3 separate regions of the Homo sapiens genome follow, and regions 1 and 3 are each linked to region 2. Evidence: fine-mapped expression QTL. A gene starts in region 2. Each other region holds a variant in brackets. All regions are shown on one strand. Distances are between the middles of the regions.

Region 1 (7,027 bases), 74 kb before region 2:
TGTGATCTGCCCACGTCGGCTTCCCAGAGTGCTAGGATTACAGGCGTGAGCCACCACGCCCAACCAAGGGCTTCTTTTAGGTAAATAACTAGGAGTAAAATTGCTGTGCAGGATATCGCATGCTCAGCTCTACAGGATAGTGTCAAATTCATTATCAAAATGGTTGTACCAATTTATATCCCCCACAGAAGTATAAAAAATACACATTCTCATTAATTCCTGATATTGCCCAACTTTGTAATTTTTATTTAAAAATTATTATTATTTTGTGTCAGGGTCTCATTCTGTCACCCAGGCTGAAGCATAGTGGCTCAATCATAGCTTACTGCAGTCTCGAGCTCCTAGGCTCAAGCAATCCTCGCCACCTCAGCCTCCTTAGTAGCTGGGACCACAGGCACACACCATCATGTGTGGCTGAGTTTTTTTATTTTTTTGTAAATATGGGCTCTCACTATGTTGCCCAAGCTGGTCTTGAACTTCTGGCCTCAAGCAGTCCTCCCGCTTCAGCTCTCAAAGTGCTGTGATTACTGGCATGAGCTACCATGCCCAGCCCAGACTTAAAACAATATTGCCTTGAGATCTTAATTTTATATTTATTTAATTACTAATGATGATGTGTCTAATTCCTAATACAGTAATTATCTAATTCCTAATGATGTTGAACATCTTTTCTTACATTTATTCATTTAAGTGTCCATTTCTGTGAAACACCTCTTTATGGTTTCTTTCCCCTACTTTCTTTTGAATTATTTATCCCTTTGAAATTGCTTTCTTCAGTTCCTTTTGTATTCTGGATACTGATTTTTTATTGTTTATGTACACTAAAAATCTCTTGCCCTGGTTGTGTCCAGGTGGGCTGTGTGTTGAATTGGAAAGGGTGCATGTCCTTGAAAGGCAGCAGCTACTACTCAGCATCTGCCTGTGTTGCCATGGACATGTGGACTCAGTGTAACTACGTCTTCCAACTCAAAAAGATTTATGTAAAATCTCCCAGTTGTTAAATGTTTTCCAGATGTTCTCTTTAACATGAAATGGACAAAAGGCCTAGGACAGAGCCCCATGAAACTCTCACATTCAAGGGCCCACAGCGTTGACTTAAGGAGTGGCCAGAGATGTGGGAGGGCAGCCGGGAGAGTCATACCATGGGGCCATAAATGTGAGCATTTCCAGACAGAGGAGACCAGCGACATCGTCAACTATTGCTGAGTACCAACACTTGAAGTTGCTTTTTATTCTTGGAGACTGGTAGAGATTTTAAGTGAAGGATTCTAATAATTTTCTGGGGATATAATTTAAATATTCAGTCTATCTGGGCTCAAGCTCCAAGATGAGCGGAATGTTTCTTTCTTCCAAATTGACTACCATTTTGCTTCTCTTCACAAACAAGAGTTTGGATCCTGGACAGAAGATTCAAGAAAATACATTAGTAATGTCAGTTCCTTAAGTTGACCTTGTCTTGGGTTTGAGAACATTGGTTTGCTGTTGCAGTTGTTACAAACAGCATCTACTGTAAAAATACGTTGCAACCATGTTTGTGAGGCATTAGGCCAATGGGGTGGGGGGTATTTGGAAGGGGTTTCTTTAACCTGCTGCTCTCTGTAGAAGGAAAACTCTCAGGATTTACATACTCTGCCTGCAAAGGATCAGGGAGGGCAATGATCTTTATTTGTGGGCAATACCATTATAGGTCACTGATGTGCTGTTTTCTTTGTTTGCCAGTTAAGTGTGTATGGAAACTCCAGTTGGCACTTTGACGAAGTGCGAAACCAATGTTATTTTCATCAGTTTATGAAAGAGCAACCTGATTTAAATTTCCGCAATCCTGATGTTCAAGAAGAAATAAAAGTGAGTATAGATACCCACACAGACTTCTCCATTAATGGAGGTTTAGGTATTTATTTAAAACACTTTATATTGCACAGTAATTGTGTAGGCAAAATCAAGTCTTTAATTATTTGAAATACTCTATAGTTATTTGAAACACTTTATATTGCACAATAATTGTGTAGGCAATAATCAAGCCTGAATTAAATCCCAGGATTAAGCTCTCTGGTGCAAATGTAGACTCTCAGACATGTCTGTGACTCCTTCCTTCATCTAACTCAGAGTACCCTAAATGGAAGGAGTCAGAAACACCTGCCACCCTAGCTCCAAGTTGCCCCGCCACCTGTGACAGTGAGCTGTACGGTGCCTGTGACGGTGAGCTGTGCGGTGCCTGTGACGGTGAGCTGTGCGGTGCCTGTGACGGTGAGCTGTGCGGTGCCTGTGACGGTGAGCTGTGCGGTGTCTGTGACGGTGAGCTGTGCGGTGTCTGTGACTGAGCTGTGCACTGTCTGTGACGGTGAGCTGTGCGGTGTCTGTGACGGTGAGCTGTGCGGTGCCTGTGACTGAGCTGTGCGGTGTCTGTGACTGAGCTGTGCAGTGCCTGTGACTGAGCTGTGCGGTGTCTGTGACGGTGAGCTGTGCGGTGCCTGTGACGGTGAGCTGTGCGGTGCCTGTGACGGTGAGCTGTGCGGTGCCTGTGATGGTGAGCTGTGCGGTGTCTGTGACAGTGAGCTGCTGCAGGGAGGTGGGTCATTTGGGGTCTGGCTCCTGCATCTAAAATGGGCTTCTTGATGGTTATTTGGCTTTCATGTCTTAGCTGTCTCATCTATGAAACACAGTTGGTGGCAATATTTGTCTCATAGGGCTGTTTGGAAGATTAGATGAGATAACACATGCACGACACTTCTGTACTCATTGAGTAAATATTAACATATTGCCTACTCCGTGCCAGGCCCTGTTCTAAGCACTGGGAATGCAGCAGTGAATAAAAGAAGCCTTACCCTCAAGGAGTCTCCAATATACTGAGGGGAAAGCAGGCAATTAGCCACTAAATATATATATGTTAGGTGGTGGTGAATGCCAAGGGGAAGGGGCATCGGAGTGTCAGGTAGAAGTGGCTCTTCTATATAAAGTGTGTAGGAGACACCTTCTTATGATGAGATGCTGTTTGGACAAAAACCTGAAGTGAGAAAGGAACCATGTGACTATCTGGGGGAAGAGAATTTCGGGCAGAAAGAAGAACAAATGGAAAGGTCCCGAGGTGAGAGTGTGGTTCATGTGTTTCAGGGATGGCATGGAGGCCAGAGTGTAGGGTTGCCAAACTTAGCAAAGAAAAATACAGGATGTCCAGTTAAATTTTAAATGAATGATGCAACATTTGAGACATACTGCTACCAAAAAATTGTTCATTGATTACCTGAAATTGAAATGTAATTGAGTGTCTTGTATTTTATCTGGCAACCCTACCAGTATGCTGGAGTGAAATGGGTTAGGGCGCTGAAGTAAGAGGTGGGGGCTGATCATTTCTCACAATACAATTCACAAAACATATCAGCTATGTTCTTGTTCTTGTTCTTGCTGCTCCTATGGCTACAGTGGGCAGAAACTTAGGGGAGTAGGGGAGTCCTCTGAGCCAAGTAGGTGGGAAGGAGACCCTAACAGAACGGGGAGCATTGGGTGCCTTTCCACAGCTCACCACGTCAGCCAGATAGAGTGGATGCAAGCTGTCATGCTGGAGTCACTAGGGGCACCTAGAACCCTTGGTTTAGTTTAATTTTGAAATAACAGTTTAATTGACATATAATTCAC[A/G]TACCATAAAATTCACCCCTTTTGAGTGTGTAATTCAGTGGTTTTAGTATCTTCACAGAGTTTCACAATCACTACTAATTTCTGAACTTTTTTTTTTTTTTTGAGACAGTCTTGCTCTGTCGCCCAGGCTGGAGTGTAGTGGCATGATCTTGGCTCACTGCAACTTGTGCCTCCCAGGTTCAAGCGATTCTCCTGCCTCAGCCTCCGAGTAGCTGGGACTACAGGCATGTACCACCATGCCCGGCTAATTTTTGTATTTTTGTAGAGACAGGGTTTTGCCATGTTGGCCAGGCTGGTCTCAAACTCCTGGCCTCAAATGATCCACCCGTCTCAGCTTCCCAAAATGCTGGGATTACAGGTATGAGCCACTGCACCTGGCCTAATTTCAGAACACTTTTATCTTCTCAAAAAGAAACCCCATATCCATCAACAGTCACTCCTTATGGCCCCCTCCCTTTCTTCCCCCACCCCCTGGGAAACCACAAATCTACTTTCTATCTTTTTACCCACCTAAGCCTCAGTTAGATAGGTTTTGCCTATTCTGGACACTTTGTACAACAGAATCATGCTGTATCTGTATATCCCTGGTAGGTGTCTGTATCTGTGTTTATTTGAGAAACTGCCAAGTTGTTTTTCAAAGCAGCTGCATAATTTTACATTTCCATTAACAATGGGTAAGCGTTCTAATTTCTCCACATTCTCACCAACACTTGTTATTGCATATATTTTTTATTACAGTCACCCTAGTGGGTATGAAGTGGCATCTCACTGGTTGTATTTGCCAAATGGCTAAAGACGTTGAACATCTTTTTATGTGCTTATAGTTCATTTGTATATCTGCATTGTAGAAATGTCTATTTAAATCCTTTGCCCATTTTTATTTCATTTTTATTTATTTATTTTTTTTGAGATAGAGTTTCACTCTGTCACCCAGGCTGGAGTGCAGTGGTGCAGTCTCGGCTCACTGCAACCCCAGTCTCCCAGGCTCAAGTGATTCTTGCGCCTCAGCTTCCTGAGTACCTGGGACTATAGGCACGTGCCACCATGCCCAACTAATTTTTGTATTTTTTGTAGAGATGGGGTTTCTCCATGTTGGCCAGGCTGGTCTCGAGCTCCTGGTCTCAAGCAATCCTCCCTCCTTGGCCTCCCACAGTGCTGGGATTACAGGTGTGAGCCACCGCACCTGGCCCTTTGCCCATTGTTAAACAGGGTTGTCTTTTTATTATTGGGTTGTAAAAGTTCTTACATATTCTTTTTCTTTTTCTTTTTTTCTTTTTTTTTTTGAGACAGGGTCTCACTCTGTTACCCAGGCTGGAGTGCAGTGGCGTGATCTCGGCTCACTGCAACCTCCACCTCCTGGGTTCAAGTGACTCTCCTACCTCAGCCACCCAAGTAGCTGAGATTACAGGTGCGCATCACCATACCTGGCAAATTTTTGTATTTTTAGTAGAGACGGGGTTTCACCATGTTGGCCAGGCTGGTCTCGAACTCGTGGTCTCAAGCAATCCTCCTGCCTCAGCCTCCCAAAGTGCTGGGATTATAGGCATGAGCCACCACACCTGGCCTCTTTTCATATTCTTGATACATGATTTACAAATAATTTTTCCTATTCTGTTGGTTGTCTTTTTACTTTCTTGATGGTGCCTTTTGAAGCACAAGCGTTTTTAATTTTGATGATGTCCTATTTATTTATTTGTTTTTTGAGACAGAGTTATGCTCTTGTTACCCAGGCTGGGGTGCAGTGGCGCAATCTCAGCTCACTGCAACCTCCGCCTCCTGGGTTCAAGTGATTTTCCTGCTGCAGCCTCCTGAGTAGCTGGGATTATAGGTGCGCACCACCATGCCCAGCTAATTTTTTGTATTTTTAGTAGAGACGCGTTTTATCATGTTGGCTAGGCTGGTCTCGAACTCCTGACCTCAGGTGATCCACCCGCCTCGGCCTCCCAAAGTGCAGGGATTACAGGCATGAGCCACTGCGCCTGGCCCAATTTATTTATTTTTTTCTTTTGTTGCTTGTGCCTTTAGTGTCGTATCTAAGAACCATTGCTTAATCCAAGGTCATGAAGATTTACTCCTATGTTTTCTTCTCAGTTTCACAGTTTTAGTCTTACATTTTAGATTGTCTGTGATCCATTTTTTGTTAATTTTTATATAGGGTGTGAAGGTAAGCTGTCCGACTTTTTTTTTTTTTTTTTGCATGTGGCTATTCAGTTATTCCAATCACGTATGTTTAAAAATACTATTCTTTCCCTACTGAATTGTCTGGCAACTTTTGTTGAAAATCAATTGACCATAAATGCATGGGTTTATTTCTGGACTCTCAGTTCTGTTCCATTCATCTATATGTCTGTCCTTATGTCAGTACCACACACTGTCTGAATTACTAGCGCTTTGTAGTAAGTTTTGAAATCGGGAAGTGAGAATCCTACAACTTTGTTCTTTTTCAGTATTGTTTCACTATTCCAAGTCCTTTGGATTTCCATGTGAATTTCTGAGTCAGCTTGACAATGTTTGCAAAGAAGCCTGCTGTGGTTTTGATAGGGATTGCATTGAATCTGTGGTTCACTCTGGGGAACATAGCCATCTTATGTTAAGTCTTCCAATTCATGAACATGAGATGTCTTTCCATTTATTTACGTGTTCTTTCATTTCTTTCAACAATGTTTTGCAGTTCTCAGAGTACATGTCTTGTACTTCTTTCGTTAAATGTATTCCTATAGACTACTTATTTTTAAGACTTTTTTTTTTTTTACTGTATATGTTTGGTGTTTCCAGAATTTGTATGAATTGTTTTGGAATTGGTTCTGGAAGTAAGCACCATGAGTGAGGGCACCTTGCCTCCATGGGGTTGTGGGGTTGTGGGGTTGTGGGGTGGGTAGTTGTAGACATGGTCAGCAGACTAACTAGGGGTTAGTTTTAAACTTCTCTGGTAGCCTGTGGACTCTCCTCTTCTTCATCACCAAAACTCCTTATCACCCACGCCTCATGCTCTCCCCACACATTCTATGTGCTAAGTGCTGTTCCTGGATAATTTAATGCTCAGAATAAGCCTAATTTACGAGGTTTTGTGATCATTTTACAGAGAAGGAAATTGAGGCTTAGATAGGTAAAGTCACCATCCTTGGGAGTCATGGAGCAGGACTGAAATCCAGACACTCGGACTTGAGTTCATGCTCTTAACCACAATCCTACACCTGCTTTGAGGCAATGTATGTGTTTCCCTCTCCATGCTTCACTTTTTCTGCACAGATTTGTCAAGGAGGTTTTCAGTTATAAATTGATAAATGTGAGTATAAACCAGCTGGTTTACAGTTGGTTTATCAGGCAGTAGATTTTTCCAGGCTCCTTGTGGCAATAGTGATGAATTGTCTGGGGATGTTTAGACAAGTGTGAT
Region 2 (7,027 bases):
GATGACCATATAATTTACCATTCTAACCAGGACACTTTTGAGAGGAAAGGGGACACTATTAATAATTACACAGGGACAACAGGTGTAGGCTGGAGCTGTGCCAGGCAAAAGTGGTTATGTGGTTACTCTCTATATAAGGGCAATCAGGTCCTTAAGGTTGAGTTCACGCCCACAGCTTGGGGTCTGGCAGAAGTACAATACTCTGACAGTGTCTTCCTGAATGACTCAAGTGGTCAAAAACGCAAGATTATTTTTCATTTTTTTACAGAGAAATAAAATACAATTCATGGCCTTTACTGAAGTTTACTGATTTGTGATTCATAAAACAATTAGCGTATCATTAGATTTTATTAAGAGCTATAATTTAGTGTTCTAGGAAATTTAGAAGGCCGAATTATACTTTGAAATGCACTGGCAGGCATACTAAGGAAGTCCTGAGGTGAATCATTTTTTATAAACCTACATTTTTATATATTACATTAGAGCCCTATAAATATATGTATACACTTTTTTTTTTTTTTTTTTTTTCAGACAGAGTCTCCCTGTCACCCAGGCTGGAGTGCTGTGGTGCGATCTCAGCTCACCGCAACCTCTGCCTCCTGGGTTCAAGAGATTCTCTGCCTCAGCCTCCCAAGTAGCTGGGATTACAGGTGGGTGCCATGACGCCTAGCTAACTTTTGTATTTTTAGTAGAGACAGGGTTTTACCATGTTGGCCAGGCTGGTCTCGAACTCCTGACCTCAGGTGATCTGCCTGCCTCGATGTATATACTCTTTTATACTTACTTTTGACTAGAGACAATTGAGACTTGAAAATTAGAAAAATCAAGTTAGAATTACTGAGAAAATTAGTAGCTCTGATATTCTACCCATTCTTTATTTTTAAATTAAAATTAATCTTAATGACCTACAAATAGGTTAACTTAAACAGTCCATACCTTACATGAGAAGCTCCGACTTGGGATGTTTCTTGCTAACTCTGATATCTTGGGTTTATTCTGAAGACACTTGGTTAGGTGATATTTTTTCAATTTTATTCTATTGTAACAATGATCAGCGAAGTTATAGTGATTCAAATGCTGTTTCTGCATGCATTTTCCAAGGTGAGGAATACTATACTTCAAAGCTTGGAGAAATAATTTGGTCTTCTGCTGCATGATATCAAAGTCCCTGGTTTATGCTCCTTTTGGGGCTGCCAGCACACGAATGATTTTATAGGTATGATTACAGAGTAGTGGGTTCTCAGAGTAACTAAGATCAGCAGTTCTCATCCCTCCTTTTCAGGGCCATGCCCCACTTAGGTTATGAATAACTTCAGACAGCTGATAACTTAGGCTAACTAAATCTAAAAACCTGTGTAAGTTAAAGTTTCATTCAAATCATAATTCTTGGCAGATGTGACTTAAATGTCTCATTTGTAAAGTTAATCCTATCAGGCTCAAACTATGCAGCACTGACTCTGGCACACATAGGGGTTAAACTAAAACAAAAAACAAAACAAGAAACAAAATATAAATTTGCAAATAAGTACACAGACTTAATGGGGTATCTCAGGAACTCAGGGCTGTAAAAGGTAAAAAGCCCTTTGGTCTTACATAATTATGAACGTATCTTTGGTATATATGTGGAAGATAAACTGGAAAAGCCTAATTATTTAATAAAGGTGGGGGAGGGAAGATTAATTATTGTTGAGTGTTAACTAACTGCCAGGTGCTTTTATCTTGTTTGTCTAATTTAAATTTTATATGGACTTAATAAAGTAGATATTACCATGCACATTTTACAGGTTGCCAAACTGTGGCTGTGGGAGGTTCTAAGCAACTGTTCCAGGTCACTTGTACAGTAAGCTGTATAGCAAAAAATCCAATTTGGTTCGGTTCCAAATACTGGACATACTCAACTTCGGATTTTTAATGTTAAAAAGGTATTTAGCGCTTTAATTAAAAACAACAAAAAACCCCTGCAAGATGCACAAATAAAATGTAAGGCCATCTCTGGTTTGTCAGGAGGTAGCTTTTATTAACCTTGATTGCTAATAAGTAGTTAAGAGTCAGAGAGACCTGGGTTGAGGTCTTAGCTCCTACACTTAACTGTGTCTCCGGGCCTCAGTTTCTTCATCTGCAAAAATGAAATGACACCATTTACCTTCTAGGGTTGTTGTTGTAAAGACAAAATGAGACAGCTTAACATTAAGACCATACAGTGCCTGGCACATAGTGACCACTCAATAAATGGCAGTTGCTATTATTTACGACAGGAATAATCTAGGTATGTTGCACACCGCTGAATGTCATTATGGAAGTCTTCCACAAAATGCCCCCTGGTATCAAAGGTAGAATGCTGCGTCAAATTTACCATAGATCAGATGCGCTACGACGCCCCCGCCCCCCTTAATCCCTTTCCATGTCGCAGCAAAATAATGGGCGATTGGGGGTAGGGGAGCAACACTAGTTTACTAGCCGACACTAGTAAAAAAAGGGGAAAAAAGACCCGAATAACAAGGACCTGCAAAGGTCCTACATCACCACGTTCCCACAGCCTTTATCCATCCATCTTTCATCCCCAAGAAGACAGTATGCAAGGCTAGGATGGGGGTGGGGTAGATAAATGGGTGTTCTCAGGAGAACCTATTCGTTTACCCCGTGCAACTCTCCACCCCAGGGATGAGGCGATCTGAATGCAACAGGGAGAGGGACCAGGTGACACGCACGCAGTGCCGGGACATTAGTCAAAAAGCGAGGACCTGGGGACTGAGGGGTGGGTGGCTGGGCGGGGGGAGAAAGGGGAGAAGGAAAGAGACCAGCACACCCCCCATACATACGCAAATTGAGAGAATCAGTCCGGCTCTGGACACAAACCAGTGAAGGCAGGCCGGAGAACCTGAAGCTCTCAGAGGGGAGCAGGTGTCACCGCAGGCAAGTCCAGCCGAAGTCTGCGTTCCGCAGCCCACAGAACGACAACTTACCCAGAGCCGCCTAGAGCTGGTTTGCAGCACGCCAATCTACGTAACCTCAATCTAGCACGAGCAACAGGCAGATTTCGCCATCTTTGTTGTGGTCAAGGAGTCTTCTTGGGTTCCTGGGTTCTTTAGTCTCGAAATATATAAGACTTTTCGTTCTTCGCTAGTCTTCTGAGCTCGAGATGAAGCACAGAAGGCTAAAACAATGAGGGACAGCGTTCCAGTAGCCCTGCCACAGCTCTCTCATCCTCTGGTCCGCCCTCACTCAAGATGGCTACCAGCAAGAATGGTGCAATGGCGTGACAGCTCGGCCCTGGTTGCCAAGGAGATGCGAGTACCGGAAATGCGGAATTCGGGGAGAGCGCGCATGCCTGGTCCGGTGGAGGGAGGGTGCCGGGCGTCACAGGTCCTGACAGGGAAGAAGTTGGCAGGTCCTGGCAGGGGACGAGCTGCGGCGGTGGCACCTCCGGGTGTGGAAGGCTCCAGTGAGATGGAGTCGCGAGTCGCGGACGCTGGGACCGGCGAGACCGCGCGAGCAGCGGGCGGGAGTCCGGCAGTTGGCTGCACCACTCGGGGGCCCGTAGTCTCGGCGCCCCTGGGAGCCGCCCGGTGGAAGCTCCTGCGGCAGGTAAGGGAGAACCTGCTCGCCTCACCTTTGCCTCTGGTCACTCCTCTCTCACGTACCGGGGGAGCGACTGTTCGCAGTTCTTTCCTCTTGGCAGCTCTGGGAGACCCTTCTCAGTTTGCCGGGAGCCACCTGCGAAGCTCCCCCTCGCTTCACCTAAGCGTCCCATCCAAGAGGAGGAATCATGTGGGGTTGGGTGGGGAGCGGGACAGCCAAGGCTGAGCTCCTGGGAAACTCAGATCGAAGTAGAAGAACCCCTTCTAGACATTTTTGTGCGTCTGGGGGACTTTTCCCCTTCTCGCCAGTCTCTGGTGCGCCCGCCGCTCCCCACTGCTCTTTTCCTGCTTCTGTTTTGCCTCCTTCCCCAGTTTCTTCTAGCTTAACTCCCAGCCTGGTTCGAGTTACCGATATTCGTCTGCACCCTCTGGCCCCGTCTTTTGCCCAGCGTGGTTGACTATGCCGGGACTGAGACACGGCATGCGTTCCCTCGGCATCTTCCGTACAGCGGAGCGTGCAAGGAGTAGGAAAAGCTGATACCCTCTCTCACTGAGGTCTCAAAGTTAAATGATTATCTTGTAGTTTGTAGTGATCAGCGAGATTCTCCGTGTCCAAGGTGGGCTAGTCAAAGTGTGTTCGTTTTTGAATGATGGTATCTTCTGGTACTTCAAAGTTTCTGCTGTTACTTACAACTCCACTCGTGCAAGCTTGACGGAAGTTCTGATTTATGATCACTCACATTCTTCGCTCACTTCTTGAAGTGAAGTCTGGTTATTGTTTTTGCATAGCAGTGTTATGCCTCTGCCTGAAGTTTTCTGCCGAAAACTTTACTCAGGAGGACATTTTTCCATTTCTGACAGTTGTGTTTGGAAAAGAGTTTCCCAGCTATTGCCACTTTACTTGAGATTGTGCTTTTAGTATTTTGGGGATCACTTTGTTTGCAGTTGCCTTGAGTCACCTTTTCATACAGTGGTCTTTTAGTGCTTTTAGAGTTATGAGTTAAGTAGATCATCAGAGTTAATTAAGATTTATTTGCTGATACATTGACAGTCTTTCCAGACCAGTAATGATCTGGTTTTGCTATTGTTACAAATGGTATTACAGGATAAGAAAATGCATGTCCTCACAGATCATCATAGGAAGTATCTATAATAAAGTAAATATCTAATTTTTTTTAATAGTGACCACTGAAATGAGATCTGGCGTGAGCTGGGGAGAGTGGACTCAACCCCCCTTCCCCCCTCCTTTTTTTTTGAAATGGAGTTTCCCTCTTGTTGCCCAGGCTGGACTGCAATGGCTGCCATCTCCGCTCACCACAACCTCCGCCTCTAGGGTTCAAATGATTCTCCTTCCTCAGTCTCCCCAGTAGCTGGGATTACAGGCATGCACCACCACGCCTGGCTAATTTTTTTTTTTTTTAAGTAGAGACGGGGTTTCTCCATGTTTGTCAAGCTGGTCTCGAACTCCCCACCTCAGGTGATCCACCCACCTCGGCTTCCCAAAGTACTGGGATTACAGGCATGAGCCACCGTGCCCGGCAACCCCCTTCTTTTTTTTTTTTTTTTTTCGATACAGAGCCTTACTGTGTTGCCCAGACGTGAGTGCAATGGCGCAATCTCGGCTCACTGCAGCCTCCGCCTCCCTGGTTCAAGCAATTCTCCCGTACTCAGCCTTCCGAATAGCTGGGATTACAGGTGCTCGCCATTACGCCCAGCTAATTTTTGTGTTTTTAGTAGAGACGGAGTTTCGCCATGTTGGCCAGGCTGGTCTCAAACTCCTGACCTCAGGTGATTCACTTGCCTCGCCTCCCGAAGTGCTGGGATTACAGGTATCAGCCACCATGCCTGCCACGCCCACCGCCCCCACCCTTCCTTTTTTTTTTTTTTTTTTTTTTAAATAAGATAGAGTCTTGCTTGTTGCCCAGGCAGGTAACTCCTGGGCTCAAGCAATCCTCCCACCTCAGCCTCCTGAGTAGTTGGAATTACAGGGGTATGCCATGATACCTGGCTTTCAGTGATTCTCAGTATAGTAAAAACTACAGCACTTATGTTCATTCTAAATTGCGGTCTAAATGAAAACAGTGACAAGTTTCAGCTGTGGCTGTTACATGAAGTCCCCACACGTTCTGACATCGAAACTTTTGGTATATATCTGCCTGCTTATAGTCTTTTTATCTTCTCTACTTGGTGAATGATTGTTCATTCTTCACACTTCCATTTCAAACTACTCTTCTGTGAAGCCACCCCTAATGCCTCTGGGCTAAGTTAGACCCTCAGCCAACTCTACCAATGAGCCCTTTATATTATTTTATGATCATGTGATCAGGGTCTCTTTTTCTTACTAGAATGGGCATTCACCCTGGGAAAAGGTGATGTTTTATTAATTTACATCCTCTGCACCTAGCACAGGGCCTGGTTAATTGATTTTTAGTAGATGTTGTTCAGTGTCTGTGGAAAGCCTGAGAGTAAGGACAGTCTTTAAGTGGCGCATAGCACCTAGTCCTTAGTGTATTTTATCAGTAAGCTATTGCTAAGTAAGAACCGCAACATCACAGTGGCATACAACAGTTAGTATTTATTTTGTTGGTGCATCTGGGGGCCACCTGGGAGCTGACCGACATAGGCTGTAGTCATCTGGGTATCTCTATGATGCACATGTGGTCCATATGTCTCTAATCTTTGGACTAGTGGGCTGAAGTCCTCATGGTGATAGCAGAGGTATAAGAGCAAGCCCAACCACAGAGACACATTTTAAACCCCTGCTCACATCATGTGTTTATTTCCTATTGGCCAAAGTAAGATATTTGGCAAAGGCCAAATTCAAGGGGCAGGGAAATACAACTCCTTCCTTGGAGGTGACAAAGAGGAAGTGAATATTTTTCTATTACAATTTAATCGATCACATATATTAAACATTTACAAGCTCTTAGTAAATGTATTTCAAATGAATGAACCATTCCTATCCTATATGCATCTAGTACTGGAAAACTATAAGGAATCTAAGCAGTGCTAGAGATATGTGACTCCTTTTCTCGCTCGTGGGACATCTGAAGAACATCTGCTCTGTCTACTTGTTTTTTCCTTTAAAATTCTGTCTTTCCATTACCCTATAGAGCTCCAAGGCTGTCTCATGGCCTTTTACTTTATGTTAACTATTCAGTATTTTCTGTGTTTTGTAATTAACAAAACATAGGTTTTGAGAGAAAACCTGGTTGACCTAGTGCATCATTTGGTTCCAGGTTACATGGTAAGTTGCCAAGATTTGAGTCAAGCGAGTACTTAAATTAGATGAGGTCTGGAAGATGATGAATCAATATCAGTAGAGGTTATGGATGTTGTTCTGTTTTCCTCTTTGTTGAGTCTCATTACATGTTGACGAAGATGGCCACTGGCAACTCCGGGCTTTCATATCCATCCAGCTAGTAATCCAGAAGAAATAACTCTTTTCC
Region 3 (7,027 bases), 40 kb before region 2:
ACACTGCAGCCTCTGCTTCCTGGGTTCAAGTGATTCTCCTGCTGCAGCCTCCCAAGTAGCTGGGATTACAGGTGCACGTCATTATGCCCGGGTAATTTCTGTATTTTTTAGTAGAGATGGTGTTTCACCATGTTGGCCAGGCTGGTCTTGAACTCCTGACCTCTGGTGATCTGTCTGCCTTGCCTCCCAAAGTGCTAGGATTACGGGCCTGAGCCACCTTGCCTGGCCTGCAAAATTTGTTTTTAATAGAAGACACAAGAAATGATTTAAATATTTTATCAACAGAAAACCAGTTCTATCAACTATGGGCCCAGTATGCAGCTTTTAAAAATGACAGTTCTATATACATTGATATGAGACCATTTCAAACAGGTATTCAATAAAGTATAGAATGGTAACATATCACCAACTGTGTAAAGAAAAATATATAAACATATGAAATGATACATTCTGTGCCTATGCAAACATATGATACATTAAAAACAAAAGAACATATAGTGCCTGTCTCTGAGGGGAACTGTGAAGCTATGGAAAGGTGTTGAAGAAAACCTTTTTATAGTATGTATTCTTGTAATTGAATAAAAAATAAAATTACAAAAATCAGGCTTGGAAGTATTTAATAGCAGACAAAATATAGTTCAATATGAAAAGCATTATATGAGACAAAGGCAATTTTCAAAAATTGATAAAACATTCCACCAAAAATCATGACTACGCATCTAACAGCTTCAAAATATAGAAAATACTCAAATGCAAAATCAACAAATCTGCAATTACAGAAAAAGACTTCAACATACTTTTAGAAAGTAGTAACTCAAGTAGACAATAATAGCTAACACTTACCGGGCACTTCTTATGTGAGTGGCACTGAAACATGTGCTTTCATGCATTACCTAAGGCTAGAGAAAATGTTAATAACTTAGACAAGTCATACATGTATCATAAATATCTTTGTACCTGACAAACAGAATAAACATCTTTTTAAACACCATTAGATAATTATTTAAAGACCACATATTGGGAACCTACCCCTAAAGAACAATAACAACCACAATAACAACTATCACCCCAGTAAACATGGCTGGCAAGAATACAATTAAATGAACATTATCACTGATTTGGCAACAGCTCTTATGAAGAATAATTTGGCATTATGTATCAAGTGCCCATACTCTTTGACAAAGTAACTGTCTTTCTGATAATCTATCTTAAGTAATACAAAAATGGGGGGAGGGGAATAAAAATACAAAATATTAGAAACACTATCGTCAAAATGAAAGGGCATGGCTGAGTATGGTACAACCGTTCAACAGAATATTGTCATTAAAAACATTTATGGAGGCTATATTATATAGTCAATAACAGAAAATGCTTGAAAGGTTAGAAGTACATCATCAAATTATGTTTTATATAGCTGTAAAATAAACCCAAATCATCTTTAATGAACACATACTATTATGGTAAAAAAAAGTCTACAATTTCTAACTTTCACCTTAGGCAGCTTTTTATTTTGCATCCTTTTTTTCAACTTTGTCTTCTATTAGCTGTGCAAGAAATACATGTCTGCTAAAGTTACACGATCTTCGCACAACAGCAACCTACACATTAGTCTACAAAGGGGAACAAACCCAAATTCCTCAGAAGTCTGAGTCCACTGTTGCCTTCTTTCTGGCCATCTGGCAGTTACAATATAGCACAGAATGACTATGCAAGTTAAATATTCATCTTAGACATGGACATTTGCTTTGGGACTCCTAAAGTGGAGTCAAATTTGATCTCTACAGAAACTCTACAATGTAGCAGAGCACTGTGCGTACTTATTGACTCCCAGACAAGCCGAAACCCCGAATTTGTCATTTCTATCAGTTTTTATATAAATTGTTCTTACCTACTTATTGATGCTTACAATTTGGCAATTATAAGGGGCAAAATTGGAGCAAGTGTTTTGGGTAAATAACTCCTTACAATATATTAAAAATACTTACAAACAATTCTTAGAATCAAACACTTACGTAAATACTTTTTTAAAAAAATAGGTCCAAAAGACTCAGCCCAGATCGGCTTTGAAGTTATATCAAGATTTAAGTCTACTTCATGCCAATGAGCTACTCCTCAACAGGGGCTGGTTTTGCCATTTGAGGAATGACAGCCACTATGTTGTGTACACAAGAGAGCTGGATGGCATCGACAGAATCTTTATCGTGGTTCTGAATTTTGGAGAATCAACACTGTTAAATCTACATAATATGATTTCGGGCCTTCCCGCTAAAATGAGAATAAGGTTAAGTACCAATTCTGCCGACAAAGGCAGTAAAGTTGATACAAGTGGCATTTTTCTGGACAAGGGAGAGGGACTCATCTTTGAACACAACACGAAGAATCTCCTTCATCGCCAAACAGCTTTCAGAGATAGATGCTTTGTTTCCAATCGAGCATGCTATTCCAGTGTACTGAACATACTGTATACCTCGTGTTAGGCACCTTTATGAAGAGATGAAGACACTGGCATTTCAGTGGGATTGTAAGCATTTGTAATAGCTTCATGTACAGCATGCTGCTTGGTGAACAATCATTAATTCTTCGATATTTCTGTAGCTTGAATGTAACTGCTTTAAGAAAGGTTCTCAAATGTTTTGAAAAAAATAAAATGTTTAAAAGTAAATTATGGCTTATAGGAGCTTATAACTTTATTCAGATAGCATCAATCAGGGATGACCAGAACACATTAGGACCCCAGATTATTCAAAAACTTTAACGAATTTTAAGGGGAAGAATTTTATCTTTTCCCTTAAAATGCAGTCATAGAAATTAGAGGATGACTCACTGCCACAGTGTCTAAAAGCATTTGCTAGCAAAGAGGCAGGACACTAATTTGTAAACTGCTCAACTGTTCTGACTGGAAGGGAGGCCTGGAGCTCTGCTATCACCAATCCTTCCCTTCCCTCTACTCCACATCCTTCTAAGGAGCATGATTTGAAAA[T/C]TACTTTCCTAGGTTAATGGGCATGTGCATCAATGGAGAGAATAGTATAAGCAAGTGAGATGTAGACTAAGCAAAATTTAGATGGAGAAGCACATTTTAAAAAATTAATAACTTAAAAGTCTCAAGTTATTAATTTTTTTTTTGCTAACTCAATTGGAAGTAAGACTATGAAATATTTCAGTGTGTTTCCAATTCCCAGTTGAATGCAGTGTTTCAGAATTTCAGGTATTTCTTAAGATCCTCGAAAACACTGGTGCTGTCAAGTCCAAGTTCCTCGTACAGGAATTTAATTTGGGCTGTAATCTAAAAGAAACACATTAAAAAAATTAAATAGAAGGCCTTTGTAGTAAAATGCCACTGTTTAAGCTTCTCTTTATCTATCCATCTTTACCTAACCGTGAAGTCAGCAATTTATGGCAAGAATACTTTCATTCGAGAGAGAGGCAGAAGGCTTCCAACAATTAAGATTAAATTATTTTCTTTAACAGAGCTCACGTATCAAGTACAAGAGAGAGACATTTCTCTTGATTGACACAGTGTCCCTCCCTCCCCTCCTGGGTCTCACCCATAGATAGGACATTTGTGAAGTGGCTTTGTCATAAACCTGCTGCAACCACTGAAAATGTGAAAACAACATGTATCTAGTTCGGGAATCTGTCCACTGAGAGGGCCTTGATAACATACCTTTTTGTGAGAATCCTCAATTACATGATTGCCTCCAGGCTGAATATCTAGAATAATATTAGGGGTCTGATAGCCTGGAAGAGTTAACATGTAGAACAATTAGAAGATTGTATGGGATCTTCTTTGGAAGATCGAGACCCATTCCTCCCCTCTTCTTTGAGTACTCAGTTCAAATAATAGTAAAGGAATAAAAAGCAAAAACCACCATCATCAACAAAAAGATGGGAGGGGACAAGCAACAGAAGACAAACTTCTGACACAGCGAAAGCAGGAAGAGGCCGTATGGAAAAGACTATATGGTGCCACACGGACAAGGTTGAAACCCAGGAGATCATCAACCTGCCCTGTGGAATCTGAGAGTCTTATGCCCTGGAAACACCAACTACAGCAATGGATGGGGGTGACAAATGGAGATGAATACAGGGAGACTGATATGGCATGTAGTTTCAAGGCAAAAGGGAGGGATTCTTATCTCATAAAGCTGAAACAGCTAGCTAGAGGAAATTCATGCAGCTAAACAGTTTGGGCACTGATGGCCCAAAACAAAAATCTCAGAATCTGTCTTTTAGAGATTCCCAAGAATAACGGCTCAATAAATATTGTTAAATGAATTAATAATTGTATGGCAGTGCATCTCCAAGTTATATCTGATTCTTAAATTTCCTGTTTCCTTTGTGTCCTGCCTATCTATTTTAATACTGTCCTTTGAAAAAGAGGTGAGGCAGTGTATGTATAGACATGTAGTTACGTACACTTTAACTGGGGAGTCAACATAGCAAAATAATTGTTTGCCCTAAATCCTGGGCAGATGATTTGGCTACAGCCTGAAATATATTCCTCTGAGCAGTGTGCTGTGGGTAGTAGTCTGTTTGGCCATGTTCCCTGCTTCTAGGGGGTCTCCTACCTTCACCTGTGTCCTTAGCATGCTCCGCGATGGCTTCCTTGAGTTTCTCAGTATAACTTACAATTCCTTTCAGAGGTACCCGTTCATCGTTTTCATATGCCGTTATGTGAATTGAAGGATAATGCTGAAAGAAAATACATGCACGAAGAGTTTACATTATTTCTTATGGTCCCTTGCCACTATAGAGACTATGAAAAATAATTACCTCCAATTTTTCCCTGTAAGTGCTCTATGCTTTTTCTCACTTGCTATCTTGAGAGCGCCTCAGTATTACAGTAGTAGACTACTTGTTATCTGGAATAGCCTTTTCTTGACTAAAGGACCTTAGCTAATTTAGTAATTAAGGCATGATAAGTCTATTCCCCTGAGGTATTAAACATGGAGCATGAGCAGAGATGGTGCTGAAGATATTTGGGCATCATAAGTAGAAACATCTCTAAAGCTCCTATTTTTGCTTCAGCTTGGATAAGTTTTTTTTTTATTATCTTCTGTGTAAATTCAGGATAATCTAACACAATTGTCTTTCACTACCTGAGGTTTAATATTTTGATAGGGACAGTAACGTTTTATGTAGTTCTTGTGTTTTTCATCAGATGAAGGATTCCCCCATTCTTCTAATTCTTCTAATGTCAGAGGAAGTGTAGTGTCCATCATGGTGTTGAGAACATCCAAGAAAGGTGCCTAAAAAAAAGGCAAAGAAACTTATACTTCAAGTAAGAGGTTGGTAAGTGAGTTTCAGAAAAACATTCTATTTTATGAATATACATACTAATATGAGAGAAAATAACTCAAGCCATGTAGATTCCTAGGAGCTAGAATACTCAGTCCTTAACCAGGGCCTGTAATTTATAACCTACTTTTAAAGTCTTCAGATTCCTTAAATGACATATAACAAGAAATGGTTTATCTTCTAATTTCACAATATTTATTTTTAGCTTAGTACCTTTTATTCATTTATATTTTTTCTTATATAAAAGCAATAAATGCTACTGTCTCATACCAATTAGGACAGTTAGTTATTATATTAAAACAACAACAACAACAACAAGTATTGGCAGTAATGTGGAGAAACCGGAATCCTGATACACTGGTGGTTGGAATGTAAAATGGGGGAGCTGCTTTGGAAAACAGTATGGTGGTTCATCAAAGAGTTAAGCTTAAGATTACCATATGATCCAGCAATTCCACTCCTGGCATATAATCCCCAAAACTGAAAGCAGGGTCTTAAAGAGATCTGCATACCTATGTTCACAGCAGCATATTCACAACAGCCAAAAGGTGGAAGCAACTCAAGTGTCCATTAACCAAAGAACGAATAAGCAAAATGTGGTATACACATGCAATATTACATGGAATATTATTCAGCCTTAAAAATGAATAAAATTCTGATCCACGCTACAATATGGATGAACCTCAAGGATATAATCTAAGTGAAATAAGCCAGTCACAAAAAATTTTGTATGACTCCACCTATGTGAGGTGTTTGAGTAGTCAAATTCACAGAGACAGAGGCTGTGGGAAGAAGCAAATGGAGAGCTGTTTAATCGGTACAGGGTTTCAGTTTTGTTAAGATGAAAAACGAGTTCTGGAGATTGACTGCATAAGCCTATGAGTGCACTTACCACTACTGAACTATTCACTTAAAAATGGTTGAGATGGTAAATTTTATGGTATTTTACCATAATTAAAAATTTTTAAATGAAAAAAATACACAAGGAATAAAGTCTTTTTGACCAGTTGGACATTTTATATTAAAAGCAAAAAACGCTAAGTAAAGAAACTCTGCAAAATACCCAAGGTGAAAGAAGAGAAAACAACCCATTGGCTTATAATTAGTGTTACAAAATTTAATAAAACGAAGGCTGGGTCGCACATGGTGGCTCATGCCTGTAATCCCAGCACATTGGGAGGCTGAGGTGGGCAAATCACTTGAGCCCAGGAGTTTGAAACTAGCCTGGGTAGCATGGTAAAACCACATCTCTACAAAACAACAACAAACCACAAAAATTAGCAGGGCATGGTGGCACATGCCTGTAGTCCCAGATACTCAGGAGGCTGAGGTGGGAGGATCACCTGAGCCCCAGAGGTCGAGGCTGTAGTGAGCTGTGTTCGTGTGCCATTGCATTCCAGCCTGGGTGAAAGAGCAAAACTCTGACTCAAAAAACAAAACAAAACAAAACAAAAAAACAAAAACCCCACAAAAACAACAAAACAAAAATGAAGGCTGTATTTTTCACTTAGCTTTATTTTCTTCTGTTAACATACTTTTTAGCTTTCCCTCATATTAACATTAACCAAGTATAGTGAGTCATCTGTAATTCTTTTTGGCTGCCTACCATATGAACTTTTTTGCATTTGAAAAACCTCCAACCTTATCAGCTAGAGCCTGCCTCTCACTGTGGAGATACTAAGTGCTAGACTTCTCTTTCCCATTTTTCCCTGCAGCTTGGGAGTAGCTG

What was found. PIP is the estimated chance that this variant, and not a neighbour inherited with it, causes the effect. A credible set is the group of variants that fine-mapping cannot tell apart.
Region 1: its variant is the best candidate, but not a certain one, in a credible set for the expression of PREPL in blood mononuclear cells (TOPMed, PIP 0.77).
Region 3: its variant is the best candidate, but not a certain one, in a credible set for the expression of PREPL in whole blood (TOPMed, PIP 0.89).

Annotation. Positions count from the first base shown.
Region 1 is chr2:44,284,313-44,291,339 of GRCh38, forward strand. SLC3A1 (solute carrier family 3 member 1) reads left to right here. Exons shown (of 10, transcript NM_000341.4): 4 at 1,720-1,845. Among named protein-coding and RNA genes, the nearest start is that of SLC3A1, 12 kb to the left of the region's middle. RefSeq lists an enhancer at 2,372-2,927. The variant A/G (reference allele first, on the strand shown) is at 3,634.
Region 2 is chr2:44,358,561-44,365,587 of GRCh38, forward strand. PREPL (prolyl endopeptidase like) reads right to left here and starts at 2,934. Exons shown (of 14, transcript NM_001171613.2): 1 at 2,820-2,934. CAMKMT (calmodulin-lysine N-methyltransferase) reads left to right here and starts at 3,387. Exons shown (of 11, transcript NM_024766.5): 1 at 3,387-3,585. The coding sequence starts at 3,448. RefSeq lists enhancers at 2,306-3,200, 2,577-3,776, 3,013-3,482, 3,201-4,094.
Region 3 is chr2:44,318,163-44,325,189 of GRCh38, forward strand. SLC3A1 (solute carrier family 3 member 1) reads left to right here. Exons shown (of 10, transcript NM_000341.4): 10 at 2,037-3,332. The coding sequence ends at 2,477. It overlaps PREPL (prolyl endopeptidase like), which reads right to left. Exons shown (of 14, transcript NM_001171613.2): 11 at 5,100-5,249; 12 at 4,569-4,692; 13 at 3,665-3,738; 14 at 1-3,283. The coding sequence ends at 3,194. Among named protein-coding and RNA genes, the nearest start is that of PREPL, 40 kb to the right of the region's middle. The variant T/C (reference allele first, on the strand shown) is at 2,981.